Regions from separate parts of the Homo sapiens genome. Here region 2 is linked to region 1. A link means that fine-mapping ties the variant in region 1 to the expression of a gene that starts in the linked region. Tissue or cell type: fibroblasts. Region 1 holds a variant in brackets; the other region holds the start of a gene. All regions are shown on one strand. Distances are from middle to middle.

Region 1 (8,103 bases):
GTCTCACATACATTATTTATAAAAGAAGAATTCTCAGCCCTGTGTCCATGGTCGCCAGGGGATCACCAAAAGTCCTGAGAGCTAACAGATGTGTGTGTGTGTGTGTGTGTGTGTGTGTGTGTGTGTGTATAGATGTGCTTTTTTTCTGGAAAGACAACCCAAAGTGTTGCTTAGATTCTCTACGTAGCGTCCACCAAAGATTGAGCACTAGTGATGTAAAAGTCACAGATGATTGATTTGAAGAGGGAGAAAACCCAAACTCATGACTGAACAGTAGTCCACCAGGAGGCTGGATATGCAGGGAGTGATACAGCTTTAGACAAGTAATGAAATCTCTTTGTTCATCTCTAATTTGGGGACGGTAATATTTGTATATCAACCTCAGTGGAAAGATGCATGTGAAAAAATGTTGTACCATCAAAATCTATACCAACATTAGTTACTAAAACTACAGGGAATTCAAGTTCCTGAGACCTTTGCACATGGGCCTCTGCCCACATTGCAGTGAGAGAGAAGGTATGAAGTCTCAGGCTGGTTTCTTGGAGTTCCCCATTCTCTTCACACTCGGGGTGATGGAACCCAGAGACAAGACAAGGTCTGGGCTCATCTCTTGGGCAGGGTAACACCTGCATGTTCACACATCAGTTGCTCTTGTCTTGTCTGGCGGGGGCCCGATTGGCAGCTTGGCTAGACTCCTGCCTAGAAATGGGATGGAATGGGAATAGGCCAGGACTTGTCACTTACTCCCACTAGAGCCCTTTCTCCAAATCTTTATATTCCCTCTTTTACCATAGGTAGCTTGTGAAAGTTACTTCAATACCTTTCCTATGGAAAACAGTAATCTTAGTTTCCCATGCTTCTTCCAGAGGCCTTGGAGTATTGGGCATTTTGTAAGGAAATTTGTACCGAGGCAGGGCTGGGTATGGTGAAGGGGCTGGGATCAGGACCTAGGCTTCCTTGGCCAACTGTTTTAACCAAGTAAGGTAAGAATGATCAATACCAGGTGGCCTATGAAAACTGGAGGCCGCCCCCCACCCCACCAAAGATTTCAGTTGAGGAGAAAGAGCTATAAAGCCATATGAGCTATATTTTAATAAAACATGAGCTTTATAGATAATAAGCTTAGGAAGATTTAGTTGGGTGAATTCCTAATAATACTTCCTCCAAGTTCTACGCCAGCTTTTGTTCTCAAATGCCAGGTGTGAATTTCTCAATGTAATGTCTTTATGAAACATGGCAAGTTTAAACATAACCATTCCACTACTGCTCTCCTCTGAATTCTGTTTTATGTTTTCAGAATGGTTAAAAACAAAGGAAGAATCTTTAAAAAAGTGTTTGTTAATCTCTCAATAACTTTCTACTTAATAGCTAGGAACTCGACCAAGCTATGTGATCTTTATAAAACCTTAGACTACTTGAGAGCTGGTAAGAAGATAAAGTTCAACAGATGTGAGTTTGGATTAGCTGGTGACCTAAAGGTTGGTAAGCTATTTAACATCTCTAAGCCTTTCTGTCCTCACTTGTAAAGGGGAATACGAAATTTATTCAGTAAATACGTTTTGAATGCTTGCCACATACCAGGCCCTGTTGTAGGCACCAGGGATACAAGGATAAACAAGACGAGCTTCCCGCTCTCATGGAACTGATCACAGAACATGAATATTCAACAAGAAATTACATAATTAATTGTAGTTTATGCCAACTGCAATAACAGCACCTACCCCAGCAGACGTTGTGAGGATTAAATGAGTCAATGTGCAGTCAGACACATTCAAAACTGTTGTCATAATACTATTTATAAAATCACATGGGCAATAGAGTCTTGCTAACAGTCCTAAATAGTATAAATGCATGTTGGGTATTAGATCCTCTTTTGTTTTTCACATATATTTAAATGGCAACTTGGTTGTGGGTCCCTTATAACAAATAGGAAGGCATGCTTTCCCTTGATGTTGGAGACACGGTCTTACCAACCTAAGGAAGGATGAAGCTGAACTTGTTTATTGCTGTCAAAAAGAGCAGTTCAGGCTGGGGGTACTGGCTCACACCTGTAATTCCAGCACTCTGGGAGGCTGAGGAGAGTGGATCACATGAGGTCACAAGTTCGAGACCAGCCTGGCCAACATGGTGAAAATACAAAAAATTAGCTAGGCGTGGTGGCAGGCATCTGTAATCCCAGCTACTCCGGAGACTGAGGCAGGAGAATTGCTTGAACCCGGGAGGTGGAGGTTGCAGTGAGCCAAGATCGCGCCACTGCACTCCAGCCTGGGTGGATGACAAGAGCGAAACTCCATCTCAAAAAAAAAAAAAAAAAAAAAGAACAATTTAGCATTGCCATTAACTGGATCAGCAATGCCTAACCCGTAAGTCTTGAGTCCTAGGGGAGTGGGGGGTTAGGGCACAGAGTCTTTGCCAAATGTTCCTAAATCCTTACATGTCCTAAGTATTGTCTGTAGAATGAAAATATCTTTTGCCTACATATGGACATTGTCATAATCTATGTAGCTGCTGATGGGATGAATACAGTATAGCTTCCTTTAAATGAGTCACTGAAGTTTTACTGTGCCCAGCATTTTTTCATTATGTATTTTCTCAGTCAAATCTTATCCTGGGCAGGCTGCAGTGGCTCATACCTGTAATCCCAGTACTGTGGGAGGTAGAAGCAGGAGGATTGCTTGAGACCAGGAGTTTGAGACTAGACTGGGCACTCAGTGAGACCCTATCTTTACAAAACAATATTAATAAAAAATAAACCAGACGTGGGGGCATGCACCTGTGGTCCCAGCTATTCGAGAAGCTGAGGCTGGAGGATCACTTGAGCCCAGGAGGCAGAGGCTGCAGTGAGCTACGATTGCACCACTGCACTTCAGCCTGGGTGACCGAGCAAGACTCTATCAGAAAAAAAAAAAAATTATCCTGCCTTTTCCTGGCTGAAACCCTTTAACAGTTCCTCATTTGTCTCAGGATAAAGTCCAAATTCCCTCCCAGGCACAACAAGACTCTGTTGACCTTTCCTGGCATAGTGCCTGCCCCACCTCCCTCCCACCCCCATCCCACCCCCATCCATCAAGTTCTGACATGAAGCCTCTTCCAGGCCGTGGCATAGAGCCCTGGGGCCCAATTCACATATGCGGGCATCAACAGACCCAGAGCTCCTGAATAGGAGAAATACCCACAGCTCTAGCAGGTGTCATGCCAGCTGAGGTGGCAC[C/T]AGTCCACTGGGGCACCGGATGCGGGTGGGCCTCCCCTCACAGTAACTTCTTCCTCCAGTTGCCGTTGTATCAACCCTGCCTCGCCGCTGCCCCACCACCACTCCACAAGCCAGTTTCTGAATTAAAGCCATTTTCCTTTCAGGGGTTTTAAAAATAAGCAATCCTGGAAGTAATAAAGCTTCTTGATTATCAGTTTTCCATGGACTCGCTTTCTTCAGTGTTATTTGGAAACCCAAGGTCCATAATGCCAGTGCCTTCACAGGCTGTGTATGTGAATTATTTACCCCCTGGAGAAAGTCATAGACAGCTGCAGCGAGGGAGTGATAAAAGTATTTTTTGGCCGGGCACGGTGGCTCACACCTGTGATTCCAGCACTTTGGGAGGCCAAGATGGGCGGATCACCTGAGATCAGGAGTTCGAGACCAGCCTGGCCAACATGGCAAAACCCTGTCTCTACTAACGATACAAAAATTAGCCGGGCATGGTGGCAGGCACCTGTAATCCCAGCTCCTTGGGAGTCTGAGATAGGAGAATCGCTTGAACCCGGGACGTGGAGGTTGCAGTGAGCCAAGATCATGGCCACCGCACTCCAGCCTGGGTGACAAGAGCAAAACTCCATTTCAAAAACAAACAAGCAAACCAAAAAATGCCGGGCACAGTGGCTCACAACTGTAATCCCTGCCCTTTGGGAGTCTGAGGTGGGCAGATCACTTGAAGTCAGGAGTTCAAGACCAGCCTGGCCAACATGGTGAAACCCCGTCTCTACTAAAAATACAAAAATCAGCTGGGCGTGGTGGCAGGAGCCTATAATCCCAGCTACCTGGGAGGCTGAGGCACGAGAATCACTTGAACCCGAGAAGCAGAGGTTGCAGTGAGCTGAGATGACACCACTGCACTCTAGCTTGGGCGACAGAACAAAACACTGTCTCAAAAAAAAAAAAAGTAGTTTATTTTTTACTCTTCTCCTCACCTTAAAACTCTCCAAAAATGAAAAAGAGAAACAACTCCATCTTTTAAAAGATGAGGAAAAAAGAGAGTAATCACTCCAGTTATTAGTTTGAAATATTGTTCCAACAAAAGAATATACTTAACATGTATGTAGTTTCACTAATAACAAAAATGAAAACATGTACCTATTAACCAGCTTTAAGAAAATAGAAGCCGGGCTTGGTGGTGTGCTCCTGTAGTTCCAGCTACTTGGGAGGCTGAGGTGGGAGGATCCCTTAAGTCTGGGAGTTCAAGGCCAGCTTGAGCAACATAGCAACACCCTGTCTCAAAATAAAAGAAAATGGAATTTAACTGGTGACTTTGAAGACTGCTTTGTGCCCCTCCTCAGTCACCTCTTCCTCTCCCTCCTGTGATAACCACCATCCTGAATTTGACTTAATAATAATTCCCTTCTTTTCCTGAGTGTTATTCTTCGTGTATATTTTCCCACACAATATGTTTCAGTTCCAGGGAACTTTTGCATTTTATATAAATGAAATCATTCAGTCAAGTATATAGTCTTCTGTGACTAACTTTTTTCACTTAACTGTGTTTTTAAGACTCAACTGCGGCCGGGTGTGATGGCACGCTGCCTGTAATCCCAGCACTTTGAGAGGCCGAGGCAGGCAGATCACTTGACATCAGGAGTTCAAGACCAGCCTGGCCAATGTGGTGAAATTCCATCTCTACCAAAAATACAAAAATTAGCCGGGCATGGTGGCGTGCACTTGTTATCGCAGCTACTCGGGAGGCTGATGCAGGAGAATCGATTGTTACAGTGAGCCGAGATTGCGTCACTGCACTCCAGCCTGGAGGACAGAGTGAGACTCTGCCCCCCCCACACACACACATACACACACACCCAACTACTACCATGTGCAGTGATAGTTTCACTCATTTTCACTGAAGAATTGTGTTCGATGATATGAGTATGTGACGTATTTACTCATCCTCCTGGTGACAGTCATTTGCATGTTTTCAGCTTTTTGCTATTACAGACAGTGCTGAACATTCCTGTACCTGTCTTTAGCTTCAAAGGCTAGGTGGCGGCACAATTCCAAACTGCCACGTATAGATAAGGGCACTGCTCTGGAAGGCCCAACTTAACGATCCATTGTTTAGAACCACAAAAGGCAAGCAGCTGGAATGACTCCAGAGAAGTCAGCTCCACCCTGCAGGCTGCAGGGAGTGGGAGAGGTGGAACTAACAGAGAAGTTATGTGTAGATCCATGTTAACCATCTATGTCTCAGCCTCCCAGCTGAGAAAACTGCTGCTGGAGAGGGAGCCAGAGGAGAGGGCCTGAGGGAACAGCAATCATTAGAAAGTCTATCTTAGAGTCTGTTGCTACACTGCCCTCCTACATCCTGAAAAGAAGGGATATGGCCCAAGACAGAGGAGAAAACACATTTGGTGATAGGTTGTTTGAAAAAAAAAGTCAGCTGAAAACTGTGGTCTGTTCCAGGTCACTTGCCTCATCTTTCTCTAGATTAATTTTTAACCAATAACTGGTCTCTTTCAAAGATGAGCAATGATCAGAAAGACCTTTGTATAATTAATGCAACTTCCAGTTAAACGAGGTGGTATTTTTATCCTCCCCCACCCAAAACCCTACTGAAAGGCCAGTGAAGGAATAGAAAGGGCCTATCCTCACCGTCACCCACGTGAGTCAGGAAACATCAGTAGCTGAGAGAAGCAACTAAGGTAGCAAAGCGCAGGAAGATATGGTTTGACACGTCTGCAGACTCCATGAAGGCACCAGAGACTGTGTGTAAGGTGGGGGTGGAAACAGCTGAATATTGAATTGCTAGATCATAGGCCCCTTCCTCCCCTCCTTAAAGCCAGGGTGACCACCAGCCTGAGCAGGAAACTGGGGATTCGGGCCTCGAAGGAACTAAATCCGAAAGGCTCTTGACTTGGGGACACAGACCTTAAGGGGGCCAGTAAATTATGTGGAATTAGAAACACAGGGATTAAGAGGAGGTCTGGCTGGGCACGGTGGCTCAAGCCTGTAATTCCAGCACTTTGGGAGGCCTAGGTGTGCAGATCACTTGAGGTCAGGAGTTCGAGACCAGCCTGACCAACAGTACAACCCCATCTCTACTAAAAATACAAAAATTAGCTGGGCGTGGTGCCACATGCCGGTGGTCCCAGCTACTTGGGAGGCTGAGGCAGGAGAATGGCTTGAGCCTGGGAGGCAGAGGTTGCGGTGAACCAAGGTCGCACCACTGCACTCCAGTCTGGGCAACAGAGTGAGACTCTGTCTCAAAAAAATTAAAATGAAAATGAAAATTGTGCAGCAGTTTGACTCCAATGATAAATTACTGTAAACAACAGAAATGTCCATGAATAGGGGATCGGATTAAACAAAATGTGATATATTGTGCCAATGGAATGCTACTTAAATAATGTGAGAGTAGTATATTTGATGACATAAAAACATGCATGGCATGTATGACATGAAGAAAGCAGATTACAAAATAGCATGTCAGACCAGGCACTCTGACTCACGCCTGTAATCCCAGCACTTTGGGAAGCTGAGGCAGGTGAATCGCTTGAGGTCAGGAGGTAGAGACCAGCCTGGCCAACATGGCAAAACCCCATCTCTACTAAAAATACAAGAATTAGCTGGGTGTGGTGGTGTGTGCCTGCAATCCCAGCTGCTCAGAAGACTGAGACATGAGAATTGCTTGAACCTGGGAGGCGCAGATTGCAGTGAGCCGAGATGGTGCCACTGCACTCCAGGCTGGGCAACAGAGTGAGACTCTGTCTCAAAAAAAAAAAAAAAATAGCATGTATATGGTAATCTCATTTTGTGAGGAAAAAATATGTATGTATCTGTCTGGAAGGCTAAATACCAAATGTTAACCATGGCAGGGAAAAAAGTAAATTTGTTCCCTGAATGGTGAAACTTCCATTCACTTTGCCCCTTCCTTCACTTTGCTCCTAGATCATAAGTGGTCCCCACCTGCTATAGTTTAAATGTGTCCCCCAAAGTTCATGTACTGGGATCTTGATTCCCAATGCAACAGTGTTGAGAGGTGGGATTTTTAAGAAGTGAGTAGGTCATGAGGGCTCTGTTCTCATGAATAAATTAATGCTATTATCTCAGGAATATGCTACTTATAAAAGGACAAGTTAGGTTCCCTTCCTGACGACTCTCTCTTGCTCTCTCTTGCCCTTCCACCTTCTGCCATGGGATGATGCCATAAGAAGACTCTCATCAAATTCTTAGCAGATGCCAGCACCATGCTCTTGGACTAGAACCAGGAGCCAATAACTTCTTGCTTTGTATAAATTACCCAGTCTTAGGTATTCTTTTATAGCAGCACAAAATGGACTAAGACACATAAGCAAAAAGCAAATGAAAAACATACATCAGAATAAGGATTACTTTGTGGAAAAGAGAATCCAGTAAATACTTTATGATTTCAAAGAATGTATAGATGATGAAAGATGAAAATGATAGAAGTACAGTGATATGATTTGGATCTGTGTCTCCAACAAATCCCATGTCAAATTGTAATTCCCAGTGTTGGAGGTAGGGCCTGGAGGGAGGTGATTGGATTATAGGGGCAAAATTCTCATGAATGGTTTGGAACCATTCCCTCAGAGCTCTTCTTGTGATAGTCAGTGAGTGAGTTATCATGAGATCTGGTTGTTTAAAAGTTTGTGGCACCTTTCCCCTTCTCTCTCTTCCTCTTGCTCCCACCATGTAAAATGTAAAATGCCTGCTTCCCCTTCGCCTTCCACCATGACTGAAAGCTCCCTGAGACCTCCCCAGAAGGCAAGCAGAAGCTGCCATGCTTCTTGTACAGCCTGCAGAACCAGGAGCCAGTTAAACCTCTTTTCTTTATAAATTACCCAGTCTCAGGTATTTCTTTACAGCAATGTGAGAACAGACTA
Region 2 (8,089 bases), 120 kb after region 1:
GGACAAGGGTGGAAGGTGGTTTCTTCACAATACATATATCGTTCTGTACTTTTTGCATTTTGAACCATGTGAATGTATTATGCCAAGGCCCTGGAATCCCAGATCATCCTGTTACTCTAATCCTTCTGCTTTTTTTTTTTGCCTTTCCAACTAATGCTCATTAAACACAACTTTCATTTCTTCATGTTCCAGATGCAAGGATGGAGGCCAAAACACCTCACAGCTGACCAAGCTCCCTGGTAAAGGAGCTCATGATGGCTAAGCATTTATTTCCCACTGTAATGCAATCAACACACCTGCTGCAGATCCCTCTCCTCACTTCCATCCCTTTGTTCATGTAGTTTTCCTCCAGAATACACCTCCACTCTCTTCTCTGATCAAGGTCAGTTCCACCTACTCAAGGCAACCTACCTTACTAGCTGGGGCTACAATGCTGTCTCACACCTCTAAGTCCAGTAACCCTTGTATGCAGCAAAAGTTCCTCTGCAAAAGGCCTGCATAAGGACCTTCTCTTATATTTCTTTTTTCATTTTTTTTTTTTTTTTTTTTGGAGACAGAGTCTCACTTGGTCACCCAGGCTGGAGTGCAATGGTGTGATCCCAGCTCACTGCAACCTCCGCCTCCTGGGTTCAAGCGATTCTCTTGCCTCAGCTTCCTGAGTAGCTGGGATTACAGGCATGCACCACCATGCCCAGATAATTTTGTATTTTTAGTAAAGACAGGGTTTCATCATGTTAGCCAGGCTGGTCTCCAACTCCCGACCTCAAGTGATCTGCCCACCTCAGCCTCCCAAAGTGTTGGGATTACAGGCGTGAGCCACTGCCTCCAGGCTCTTATATTTCTTTTATATGTTTCACAACCATTGGCACAGTACTAAGCACAAAATATATTTCTCAAATTTTTGTTGAAATTTTATCTCTAAAATATTTGGTGATTCATTGTGCTGAACAACTTCCTGCAGGCATCTGTGTACCTGAGATTCATTTCATCCTTCCTTTCCTTCTCCAATTCAGTCCCCTCCAGTGTCCAAAGACTTCCCTCTTTGGAACAGTTCGCATATTACTACAGTGAAGAAAATCTTTCTGGAGACCCAAAGCAAAGGCTTTGTCCCAGTCTGGCCACTGAATCCCACAGCCTCCATTTAAGACCATTTTTGGGTGGGCAAAGTAGTGTGAAAGGTAAGGCATGTAGGGTTAGCTGCCCGGCTCATACAAAGACATATCACATTGAACTGAGTCCTGAGGATGATCAGGCCAAAGCAAGCGTTTCACAGGGAAGAGGCTAGTAAGGTAATGATCCAAATCAATGAAATACAGATTTCTTGGGTGATTCCTCAATGAAATTCTCCCCACTACCCAAGCAAAAAGAAAACAAAAATCTCATAACTCACTTACAAAACAAGCTATTAGGAAAAGCAATTGACCCTGAGGTGAATAGAAGCTCCTTCTTACAGAACAAAGAGAACTATAATGAGGGTTTCTAAATTTTTCCAAATATTCTCTTAATATATTCTTACTATACTTAATGATATATCTCAAACCAACACCACCTTTCCCAAATAAGAGTGCATGCTTACCTGTCCATCTCTTAATTCTTCTTTACTATGGAAAGAGCAAGATTTTTCATTCATGACTCAAAATCATTTGTTCATGTGAGCTTTGTCCTTGGGCCCAGAAAGCATTTTAGTAAGGTCTGAGATCAGAAGCTATGTGGAGAGCCAGAGATCCAGTTGCTCTACCTTTGCCTTCCTTGGCAGTCACTCAGACTAAGAGTAAGAAAACAGTCCCTTTGTGCCATCCGAGGGTGTAGGAGGTTTCTGTGAGTGCTGAGAGAAGTCCTCTGAGGTCTTCGAAGCCTCAGCTCTGCACAAAAGAAAAAAAAGAAATTGAAAAAGAAAACTGGTTTCACCATTCAGTTATGCCTCTGTTGACAATTTTTTTTTTTTTTTGAGTTGGAGTCTTGCCCTGTTGCCCAGGCTGGAGTGCAGCCGTGCGATCTCGGCTCACTGCAACCTCCGCCTCCCGGGTTCAAGCGATTCTCCTGTCCCAGTCTCCCGAGTAGCTGGAATTACAGGCGTGCGCCACCACACCCTGCTAATTTTTGTATTTTTAGTAGAGATGGGGTTTCACTATGTTGGTTAGGCTGGTCTTGAACTCCTGACCTCGTGATCCGCCTGCCTCGGCCTTCCAAAGTGCTGGGATTACAGGCATGAGCCAACACGCTCGGCCTGTTGACAAAATTTAAGCAGCTGTGAATTTATTCTGAATGAACAACTTGCCTCAGCCAAATGCTTACCTCTTACTACCCAAGCCACAGGATGGCCAAAAGGGGACCACACAGGGGACTGTGAGCTGGATTCTGTGTCCAAAAGGCAGCAGCACCACTAGAAGGGATGGGGTCTGTTTCTGACAATGGAGTTACTGGGACCTGGGCCAGCTTATCAAAGGCGTGAGGCTAAAGGTGTCACCTTGGTGGGTGGTCTTAGCTGAAGTGCTCAGGCTTTGTTTAGGCCTCACACACAGGCTGGGTCAGGGGCTTATAATACTAGACCTGGTTCCAACAATGGTAGAAATTCAAAATGCAACACGATGTTCTAACCTTTCTCAGTTATCAGCAATACTGTGCATGTGGCAGCTGGCTAGCCAGTTTGGGCAATTCTAAGTCTTTCATCTGACATTGCTTCCCTCAGGAAAAGGGCTGGACAAGGCTCATACCTCATCACAGGGGAATTGGACATCCGGAATGTCTGTCACATCAAAAATTGCATCCTAAGTGGGCAGATGGCCCACACACAACTGACAATCATAGTTCACAACTTTGGGTGACTAAGGAAGGAGGGTAGCCTCTCTATGAGGTCAGCCCTCCAGGATGCCATAAAAACTGGCTGCTGGTGTCAGGATGCTTTGATTATTAACACTGAGAGGAAGAATACCTCCTGGCTCTTGGGCTTGACATGTGGCTCACTGTAATCCGGGGGACAGGGCAATGCCCCCTTAGTCCTGGCACCCCAGGAACTAAACTGCTCTCACTGTGGCCTCTGGGGCCTCAACATCTGCCTCCCCTTTCCTTTTCCTCCATCATGGCCTCCATGACAGCCTATGACAAAACACACATTGGCCAGCCTTGGCAAGGTGACAGGCGGGTATGGTAATAGCAATCTCAGGAGGGCTCTTCTGTTGCTGTGTAGAAAATGAACCAAGTAGCATAGAATCGTGACCAGCTTTCCACACCTGGCTGGAGCACTCCTGGGGCCTTCAGTAGGGACAGTTACTATCTGTAGCAGAGAAGAAAAGAGCAACAATTCCATTAAACAAGGAAGTACTCAAAGGCAAATTCCTGATAGTTGGACCTAAGGAAACGGCCTTCCTGTAAAAATGGATCCTTCTCCAATCAAGTATTCATTATGCACCCTCTTTAGGCAAGGAGGGGGTATGATTCTTCAACTGCTTGCTGGAGGTTAGATTCTCTGCATAGGAATTTAAATTAGATGGGCCCTTAGCTGATCCTTTCACCATGCTTGTCCATGGGCGGCTCCCCGTCCCCCAGGTTCCCCACGGATGGGGTGTCATTAGGGACCCGCCATAGAGGACTCCGTCCCAGGCGGGCCCCCAGGACAAAACTATGGGCCACTTTGAGGGGCACAGAGACAGACGCTCACCGGTTGTGATGCGCAGGTAACAGAGAGCTCAATTCATCATGACAACCAGTCAGACAGGGGCTGTGAGCAGCCTTTGGACAGAACTTTCGCATAGCCTGGAGGCGTAAGACGAGGAAAGCAATTTAACACCTCAAGGCAGCGAGTCCAGGGCAGAGCCAGGACCAGAACTCAGGACTCCTGTCTCCCAGTCGGGATTCTCTTTCAGTCTTACAACTCTCGGCCTTGTCTCGCCCCATAGTGATAATTTCCACCGGATCACATTCTCCCTCCCTCCTCAGGCCGGCTGCTAGCTCCGCACAGGCACCAACCACTCCCCTTGGCAAGTGTTAACGCGTTCTCACCGTTAAAAGAGCTTTCCAAACTTGGGGGTCCCGCCGCCTCGGCTAGGCCTCATCTGCTCATGCGCACAGCCGCTTCCGTGCCGGCTCCCCTGGCCCCGAGAACTACATTTCCCAGTAGGCAATGGAAACCCAAAAGAAGTACGGAGAGCCGGGAGGGTCAATCATCACCTGAGAGTTGGCTCTTCGCTGGCTGGCTGGTTAATCAGTGCTCAAAGCTGCCTCCGCCTCCTGACTGGAGAGCGAACTAGCCCGGGCGGAGCCACAGTCCTAGAGGCTGAGCGCAGTCGGAGCTGTCCCATTTACCCGACCCGACGCCGGCGTGATGTGGCTTCCGCTGGTGCTGCTCCTGGCTGTGCTGCTGCTGGCCGTCCTCTGCAAAGTTTACTTGGGACTATTCTCTGGCAGCTCCCCGAATCCTTTCTCCGAAGATGTCAAACGGCCCCCAGCGCCCCTGGTAACTGACAAGGAGGCCAGGAAGAAGGTTCTCAAACAAGGTAGCAGGAGGGACCCTGGGGTCCGGGGCTGCACTCGAGGCTTTCTCACAGATTTGGGTTCTCATTTTGCCAAGGCAGCCGCTACCAGACGTGGGCCTTAGTTTCCCCATATGTAAAGTACTAGGAGGGCTTCCTTGCACGTGGAGGAGCCCCGCTTTAGTGTGCAACACTGTCGATAGCCTTTGCCCTAGTAGGCCCCGGGAATAGTAGTCCCAAGGGTGTGGTCATTGTCCTTGGTTTGCAAGGTGTTGGCACCCGCCCTGCCACTTGTAATCCCCGTGGCTCGTGGAACTGATAATCCCCGTGACTCATTCCTCCACTTGGTTCCAGGACCTTAACTTTTTCACCTACCCTCCCATGCGAGCTCAGGGGTGTGGGGGAGCAGCACAGAAATGCGTAGGAAATTGCGTTTTGCCCGTCCGGTGATTTAACAGGCTTTGCATGGTCCCAAATCGTAAGGATTGAACCCTAGTTCTGAAACATTGGCAGAGGTTCAACAAGGCGCCTCAGGCTCAGAGCCTGCTCTCCACTCTCATCTTTAAAACATATTTTGTGGTTGCTTCTAGAGTTTAAAGAGTTCTGCTGCTTTAAAAAATAATGGATCACCTGTTTGATCTACGGAGTCCCTCTCACTTGTAAATTTTAGAATTCTCCGTGTCATATCTTGCTACACAATCGGAGACAGTACTGTTCTAAGTGGAAGGACTAATCATCTGGACTTCTGAGAACTGAGTTTTAGCTTGGACTCTGTCACTAATTTGCTGCATAACCATTAGCACCTACCTGGGCTGGTCTAAAAATGAGATGACTAGCTTAACTGCTTTTCAAACCGGATTGTGATCTATTAGTGGGCTATGAAATCAATTTAGTGAGTTGCAACTGGCATTATTTATTTATTTATTGAAACAGAGTCTCGCTCTATTGTCCATGCTAGAGTGCAGTGGCGCGATCTCCGCTCACCGCAACTTCCGCCTCCTGGGTTCAAGTGATTATCCTGCCTCAGCCTCCCGAGTAGTGGGCATGCCCAGCTAATTTTTGTATTTTTAGTAGAGACAGGGTTTCACCATGTTGTCAAGGCTCTCGAACTCCTGGCCTCAAGCGATCCGCCCACCTCGGCCTCCCAAAGTGTTGGGATTACAGGCGTGAGCCATCACGCCTGGCCACAACTAGTATTTTAGAATGCAGTAGAATAGAAAATATCAGAGTGCATTATACATAGTTCCACTAAGTATTGCATTGTGACACTTGTTTCATGTATTTATCTTATATACTTACATGTGAAATTTTTTTTTACTATTGATCTCTCTAAAAACATTAAAAAAATAAGCAGTTTGCCAAGTTCTCTTGTATCTTGAAACATCCCAGATCTCAGTTCTTTGCCAGTGATTGTTAAAGAACAGATCTTGTGTCGGAAGTACCCATATAGCACCACTTGCTATCCAGTTTTGTCTTCTGAGAAGGTGCTGCCTCCCTCAGCACTGCCCCCAGACCTTCCCTATGGGAGGGGCTGGTGCTGTGATTTCTCAGAGCTGCAGCCTCTGAGCAGTTCTGTCCTGCCCAAGCCTTTTCATCAGGACCTGGAAGAGCCACCATAAGACCCAGCTATTCCACTATTGCTTGCAGACCCTGCATCTTCCAAAGAAACCCGGCTTGTGGGCTGGTGTGTTGGCTCATGCCTGTAATCCCAGCAATTTGGGAGGCCGAGGTGGGTGGATCACTTGAGGCCAGGAGTTCAAGATCAGCCTGGGCAACATAGCAAGACTTTGGCTCTATAAAACATAAAATAGGCGGGGCGCGGTGGCTCATGCATGTAATCCCAGCACTTTGGGAGGCCGAGGCAGGCGGATCACGAGGTCAGGAGATCGAGACCATCCTGGCTAACATGGTGAAACCCCATCTCTACTAAAAAATATTAAAAAAAAAAATTAGCCGGGCGTGGTGGTGGGCACCTGTAGTCCCAGCTACTCGGGAGGCTGAAGCAGGAGAATGATGTGAACCCAGGAGGCGGAGCTTGCAGTAAGCGGAGATTGCGCCACTGCACTCCAGCCTGGGTGACAGAGTGAGACTCCGTCTTAAAAAATAATTAAACACATAAAAATAAAAATAAAAATAAAATGGCCCGGCATGGTGGCATGCACCTGTAGTCCCAGCTACTCGGGAACCAGAGGCAGGAGGATTGCTTGAGGCCAGGAGTTCAAGGCTGCAGTGAGCTGTGATCACATCACTGCACTTCATCCTGGGCCATAGTGAGACCTTGTCTCAAAAAACAAATAAGCAAAACCCCAAATCTGCCTGGCTGGTTCTGAGTATTCCCAGGTAAAATGTTTGAAACATGTTAGTCAAGAGTTCTGTGCCAAACCACTCTAGAGGTTTCTTGCACTGTACAAGCTAGAGAAGTCTTCTTTGGTTTCCCTATCTTTGCTATTTCCCTGCCCCTGCCTGAGAAACCCACCCTTTGGCCCTTCTGCTGTAGCTTTTTCAGCCAACCAAGTGCCGGAGAAGCTGGATGTGGTGGTAATTGGCAGTGGCTTTGGGGGCCTGGCTGCAGCTGCAATTCTAGCTAAAGCTGGCAAGCGAGTCCTGGTGCTGGAACAACATACCAAGGCAGGGGGCTGCTGTCATACCTTTGGAAAGAATGGCCTTGAATTTGACACAGGTAAGGCTTGTGTGGAAAAGGGTTGGGAGCATGGCTGTATGTTGAAGAGGCTTGGAGCAGCCCTTGTGGGGTGATACTGAGCATTTCTGTTGTTTTGGAAGTGCCATCTTCTCTCTGGGTACTTTTTTTCTTTGTTTGTTTCAGACAGAGTCTCACTTCATCACCCAGGCTGGAGCGCAGTGGTGTGATCCCAGCTTACTGTAACCTCTGCCTCCTGAGTTCGTGATTCTCATGCCTCAGTCTCCCGAGTGGCTGGGATTACACTCAGTAATCCCACCAAGTGGGCCACCACACCCCGCTAATTTTTTTGTATTTTAGTAGAGATGGGGTTTCTCCATGTTGTCCAGGCTGGTCTCGAACTCCTGACCTCAAGTGATCCACCTCCCTCTGCCTCCCAAAGTGTTGGGATTATGGGTGTGAGCCACCGTGCCCAGCCTCTGGGCAGTTTTCTTATGTGACAGCATAGCTACTGGGAGTTGAATCGGGCAGCGATCTGGCGGTTTCTGCTGTGACACCTCCCTACAGACAGAGTGAGCAGCTCACTCTGGGCGTGAACTTGGCCAGGCCAGATAAACTCTTCCACCTCACTTCCTCAGCCACCTTTCCAGGGCTCAATCCCCATATCCCTTTACTACCTTGTTTTTCCATCTCCCAACAGGAATCCATTACATTGGGCGTATGGAAGAGGGCAGCATTGGCCGTTTTATCTTGGACCAGATCACTGAAGGGCAGCTGGACTGGGCTCCCCTGTCCTCTCCTTTTGACATCATGGTACTGGAAGGGCCCAATGGCCGAAAGGAGTACCCCATGTACAGTGGAGAGAAAGCCTACATTCAGGGCCTCAAGGAGAAGTTTCCACAGGAGGAAGCTATCATTGACAAGTATATAAAGCTGGTTAAGGTAACATGGACATGCTGAGGACCCAGAGTTTGTTCTCGAT

Evidence for each region. PIP is the estimated chance that this variant, and not a neighbour inherited with it, causes the effect.
Region 2: RETSAT starts here. The variant in region 1 is fine-mapped to the expression of RETSAT in fibroblasts (GTEx, PIP 0.99).

Annotation. Positions count from the first base shown.
Region 1 is chr2:85,466,094-85,474,196 of GRCh38, reverse strand. No RefSeq gene overlaps it. Among named protein-coding and RNA genes, the nearest start is that of SH2D6, 51 kb to the right of the region's middle. The variant C/T (reference allele first, on the strand shown) is at 3,212.
Region 2 is chr2:85,350,740-85,358,828 of GRCh38, reverse strand. It overlaps RETSAT (retinol saturase), which reads left to right and starts at 4,301. Exons shown (of 11, transcript NM_017750.4): 1 at 4,301-4,493; 2 at 6,967-7,149; 3 at 7,808-8,049. The coding sequence starts at 4,322. ELMOD3 (ELMO domain containing 3) reads right to left here and starts at 4,060. Exons shown (of 14, transcript NM_001135022.2): 1 at 4,000-4,060; 2 at 3,659-3,753; 3 at 3,231-3,274; 4 at 1,577-1,862. The coding sequence starts at 1,630. RefSeq lists enhancers at 3,604-3,663, 3,298-3,797, 3,834-4,233, 3,798-4,299.